2 separate regions of the Homo sapiens genome follow, and region 2 is linked to region 1. Evidence: fine-mapped expression QTL. A gene starts in region 1. The other region holds a variant in brackets. All regions are shown on one strand. Distances are between the middles of the regions.

What was found.
Region 2: its variant is fine-mapped to the expression of ADAM33 in thyroid (GTEx, PIP above 0.99).

Annotation. Positions count from the first base shown.
Region 1 is chr20:3,680,634-3,683,535 of GRCh38, reverse strand. It overlaps ADAM33 (ADAM metallopeptidase domain 33), which reads left to right and starts at 1,526. Exons shown (of 22, transcript NM_025220.5): 1 at 1,526-1,628. The coding sequence starts at 1,532. RefSeq lists an enhancer at 1,208-2,101.
Region 2 is chr20:3,653,567-3,656,468 of GRCh38, reverse strand. No RefSeq gene overlaps it. Among named protein-coding and RNA genes, the nearest start is that of GFRA4, 8.4 kb to the left of the region's middle. The variant TTG/G (reference allele first, on the strand shown) is at 1,544.

The DNA.
Region 1 (2,902 bases):
TTGATTTTGAGATATGTGAATGTAGGTTTCTCTCACTGCTCGAACTTTCACTAACCAAATTACTACATTCCAAATTCTCAAAAACAAATAGATTTACTTAAAAGTAGGCTGGGTGCGGTGTCTCACGCCTGTAATTCCAGCGCTTTGGGAGGCCGAGGCGGGCAGATCACCTGAGGTCGGGAGTTCGAGACCAGCCTGACCAACATGGAGAAACCCCATCTCTACTAAAAATACAAAATTAGCCAGGCGTGGTGGCGAATGCCTGTAATCCCAGCTACTCGGGAGGCTGAGGCAGAAGAATCACTTGAATCTGGGAGGCAGAGGTTGCAGTGAGCCCAGATCATGCCATTGCACTCCAGTCTGGGTAACAAGAGAGAAACTCTGTCTCAAAAAAAAAAAAAAAAAAAAAAGATTTGCTTAAAAGTTAACATCTCCGGCCGGGCGCGGTGGCTCATGCCTGTAATCCCAGCGCTTTGAGAGGCCGAGGCGGGTGGATCACGAGATCAGGAGATTGAGACCATCCTGGCCAAAATGGTGAAACCTCGTCTCTGCTAAAAATACAAAAGTTAGCTGGGGGTGGTAGCGCGCGCCTGTAGTCCCAGCTACTCGGGAGGCTGAGGCAGGAGAATCGCTTGAACCAGGGAGTCGGAGGTTGCAGTGAGCCAAGATCGCGCCGCTGCACTCCAGCCTGGCGACAGAGGGAGACTCCATCTCAAAAAAAAAAAAAAAAAAAAAGTTAACATCTCATCCAAATTTGCACCGAGTAGGAAAACAAAAGTTTAAAACATGAAACAGATGTTACTGAGGCCGAAAGGGTCTCCCAGGCCTGGGAGTCTGCAGCTTTTATGCAATTCTGCCCTCTGGCCACCGCCAGGGAAGAAAGGTTGTCTCCGTCTGCTGCATCGCCTTTGCCCAGCAATGAAGCCCCCAAGACAGCGGCAGCCGGTTGCCTGAACCTTCCTATCCTTGGGGGCACCCAGTGCAGGTGGATGACCCGACTCAACCTCCGCCAGGGCACCCTCGGGGCAGGACGGGTAGCAAGGAGGGGACAGAGATCGGCCCCAGGAGACCACGGAAGATCGCGCTCCTGGGGCCAACTTCAGCAGCGAGAGGCGGCCTTTGCCCACCGCCTCATCCCACCACGCCGCGGTCCTCCAAGAACCTTCCCAGCGGTTCTCTCCTCCTCTCAGGAGTAGAGGCCCTCTGAGACCGACGGGGAGGGACGGCTCGGGCCGGTCATCCGAGGGGCCGCACGGATTCCCTCCTCCGCCCAGCTCCACCCCCTCGAGGGGCGGCGGTCCGGGAGTGGCGACCCGGCTCCCCCATGGCGCGCGCCGTCGGGGCCCCTGGCCAGGCTCCGAGCGGGGTTGGCGGGGAGGGGAGGCGGGAGCGAGGGCGGGCGGTGGGAGGTGGGGGCGGGAAGGTCCGAAGGCGGCGGCCTGAGGCTGCACCGGGCACGGGTCGGCCGCAATCCAGCCTGGGCGGAGCCGGAGTTGCGAGCCGCTGCCTAGAGGCCGAGGAGCTCACAGCTATGGGCTGGAGGCCCCGGAGAGCTCGGGGGACCCCGTTGCTGCTGCTGCTACTACTGCTGCTGCTCTGGCCAGTGCCAGGCGCCGGGGTGCTTCAAGGTGAGGACGCGGGCGGGGTGCGCCCTGAGGGGCAGGCTAGGCGCGGTGGTGGTGGCGGGGATGGGTTCTGCTCAGAGCTCGGGTCAGCGCGCGGAGGGTCTCACGGCCCCGGCACCATACGGCCAGTAGGTCAGGGCGTGGGGACTCTTTGGGGGGGTCTCCGTGGGACCTGCCCAGGGACGCTCAAGTGTGCTTGGGCTGGCCCCGGGCCCGGACTTGCCCACACTGCCCGGCTGCCACTCCGCTGGCAAAGCAGAGGGCATGGCTCCCTCCCCCTCGGGGGCAGCCCAGCCCCCAGCCCATAGCCGTAGCCCCCTCTTCCTGGATTCTCGCTCTCACAACCAGCTTCCATCCGCAGGCCACCGTGTGACCCGCTCCTGCTCCTCCACCCCTTAGGACTCAGCGGGGCTCCGTCCTCTAGGAAGCCCCCATGCCCAAGAGTCCCCCAGAGTCCCTGCTTTGCTCTCAGGCTGCAGAACTAGCTGTGGCCTCCACCCTGCTCACCCCTCGTCCCTCCTCCCAGGGCAGCAGGGCAGTGTGTATGTTGTTTATATTGTTGCCTTGTTTGGTGAGATAGAGAAGGGCCTCTCCAGATAGAAGGTGTCTGTTTAGCAGTGCTCTGGGAAGACTGCAGCTGTCTCCTCGGGGTAACCCCTCCAAACAAAGATGTTAAGATGGGGCTGGAACAACCTCTGCAAGCGGGTGGGAGGATTAGCCAGTCCTGCACAGCAAGTGCCTGGCCGGGAACAGGGAGGGCAACCAGGGAGGGGGCATGCGGGGCTGGGCTGTGCTATGCAGACTGGGCGGTGGCTTCCACAGCACTGTGTGGGGACCAAACAGGTACAGGGGCCTGGTCTGTTCTGGCCCCAGGGGAGGGCCCCAGGCGGTCCACTGCTCCCTCCCCTCTGAGCCCTATCCTGGGGTCAGGGGAGGTGATGGGACCCCTGGGAGAGGGGCGTCTATGTGCCCAATACCAGCCTGGCTCCCTCGGGTTCCACCCCCATTCACCCGGTCACCGGAGCTCCAGCTCCAGCTCCAGCTCTGCCCCTCTCTCCCTCATTGGGGTCAGGGTGCCCGTGGCCAGCACGTGCGCGCAAGGCCATGTGGACAGCACCCACACACCACACTGCACCCACACCACACCTGTGCCCGGGCCCACCCTACCTCTTCCCCAAACCCTTAGAGGCCTAGGAGCAGCAAAGCTTGGTTCTCTACTCTCAGTTAAGTGCTCTCTGGGCTGAGAGACCTCCCCTCCTTCCCCTCCCCCACATCCA
Region 2 (2,902 bases), 27 kb after region 1:
TGGTGATGTGTGTCTGTAGTTCCAGCTACTCAGGAGGCTGAGGCTGGAGGATCACTTCAGCCCAGAAGTTGGCTGCAGTGAGCCATGATTGTGCTAGTGTATTCCAGCCTGTGACAGAGTGAGACCCTGTCTCAATAAAAAATAAAAACCAGAAATGAAATGACCTCAAATAAAAATAGAATTGTGGATTGAAAATATAGGCATATGCTTTCCAAAAGACTGGAAAGATAAAAAGGACAGAACCTATTTGAAAATTATGAGATTGCTTCATGGCTGTCAGTGGTCCCAAAGATATGTCCACATCCTAACCCCTGGATCCTGTAAATATTACCTTATATGTAGGCAAAAGAGTATTACTTTCTGTGGCAAGAGATGTGATTTAAGTTATGTTTTATGTTTTTTTTTTTTTTTTTGACAGTCTCACTCTGTCACCCAAGCTGGAATTCAGTGGTGCAGTCATAGCCCACTGCAGCCTCAAACTCCCAGGCTCAAGCAATCCTCCTACCTCAGCCTCCTGAGTAGCTGGGACCACAGGTGTGTGCCACCACGCCTGGCTATTTTTAGTAGAGACAGGGTCTCCCCATGGTGCCCAGGCTGTTCTCCAACTCCTGACCTCAAGTGAACCTCCCGCCTTGGCCTCCCAAAGTGCTGGGATTACAGGCGTGAGACACTGCACCCAGCCAAGTTACAGATCTTGAGAGGAGCTTATCCTGGATTATCTAAGTGGGCTCTCAACACCTGTATGTCGCACCTCTGCATCTCATGAGAGTGATGCAGAGGTGTCTACAGGGAAACTAAACACAGACATTTTGAGCAAAAGACCAGGGGAAGACAGAGATAGGGATTGGGGTGATGCAGCCACAAGCCAAGGAATGTCAGGAGCCACTGGAAGCTGGAGGAGGTAGGCACAGATTCCCCTAGAGTCTCCAGAGACTACAGCCCTGGCAACACCTGCATTTCAGACTTCTGGTCTCCAGAACTGTGAGAATCAGTTTCTCTTGTTTCAAGACACTGAAGTTGCGGTAATTTGTTCTGGCAGCTCCAGGAGACTAATAGCACTGTCTAAGATCATTAGAGTTTGGTTTCCATTACTCTACCTAAAAAGGTCCTGGTTTATACACGGTGTTAAGTCTGGCCAAGCCTCAAGGCTGAGTCCAGCTGTGGCCCCCATGACCAGGAATGGGTCATGCGTTGTTCCTCCACATCTGAATGTCAGCCTCCTTGTCCTGCCAGGGCGCTGTCGGTTTTGTGCATGGGCTTTGGGAGACTGCAGTCCTGCCCCCACACTGCCCTCCTGTGACTGGGTCTCTGTTACCTGTTGCCTGGCAGGTGGCTGGGAGTGGAGGTGATGCGAAAAGGCAGGTGCTGGAAGCATCTGTGGATTTATTACTGGAAACTTCACGGCTCATGAATGTCCATCCTGGTGTGGAGCCCGGTGATTAGGTGCAAGGTTGAAGTGGAAACCACTTACCGCCCACTAAGCGAGTCAGGCCGGGCCATGCTCACAGAACCAGCTCATTTTTGCATGAAATGTGGACACGGG[TTG/G]GTGGAATTTCCAGAGGGCCAGGAGGACAGGGGCTGTGCAGGGCTTTAGGAGCAGTCTCTCAACCAGACAGCAGCTTGCCAGTGAGCCTGGCATGCTTGTGAGCTGAAGCAGAAAGGCACAGCCCTGCCTTGCCGGGCTGCTGGGAAGCCCTGGATCGGAGGATGTCTCGGGAAGCTGCTCTGCTGGGGGCCTGTCTCTCCACACCCAAGCGAACCTTCAGTTCAAGGCAGAAGAGAGAGAGAAAAATTAAGATGAGGACACACACTAGAAAGTAAAACACACACAAACTCAGAAATGGAGTCTTCAAGGGGCAGGAACCAAACGTGGAAGGAAAGGCTTACAGGGCATGCCAGTGGGCCCTGGCAACTCCATCCAGCACATTTGAGATAGCCATCGGGATCTTCCGGTCTATGGCTTTCTTGTTTCCAGGACACAGGGTGGAAGGGAGTTCTTGTTATACAGCTGGTACCTGCAGGGCTGCAGGGCGTGTGTCTGTTCAGACGTGACCCATACAGATGCCAGGAATGACACTGCTGTTGTTGACAGAATTTGTCAAAATGATGACCAGCTGATGATAAGTTTTAAGGAAAACGAAGTTCAGTTTTCCCTTGATGTACACAGTAGTTGCACTGCTGGAAAGCTGGCTGTATATTAAACCAGCTCTCAAGTACTTTGTGTTTATAACTGGGTTAGGTTCTCCACGCAAACAACTGGGAATGGACTTTTTCATTCTCAGAAATATCCAGCAGGCCTACCAGGCATGCTGCCCCCTCAGGGCCTCTGCACCTGCCATCCCTGTTTGGAATGCTCTTCTCCCAGACCTCCACATTCCTTCCTGCCCCCTCCACTCATCGTTCTGCTCAGCTGTCACCTTAGCAGAATGGCTTCCCCTGGCCACACTATGTTAAGTAGCAATCCCCCCAGCACTTTCTACCCCTAACCCTACTTTTACCTTTCTTCACAGAGCTTATCTGACATTTTATTATCAACTCCCCTGGAGGACATGGAGTTTTCTGTTTTGTTCATTGCAAAATCTCTGATCCTGACACAATGCCCTAGCCCTGATGTGCTCAATAAAAATTTGTTGAATAACTAGGTGAATAAATCTAGAGAATTAATTAATTCACTTAAGCAGCATAAAACAAGATACCTAATTCTACTACCTTTGGCCTATAGTGCTCTGTTCCACAAAGTCATTCAGGGACCCAGTCTCCTTCAATCCTGTTGTATTACCATCTTCACCATAAGCCTTCAAGGTTGATGGAGACAGTGGAGGAGACACTGTTACTGTGAATGGCCTTGAAATGACACATCATTGGTGAGGGCTGGTCCCAAGGCATCTGGGTAGATGCCACG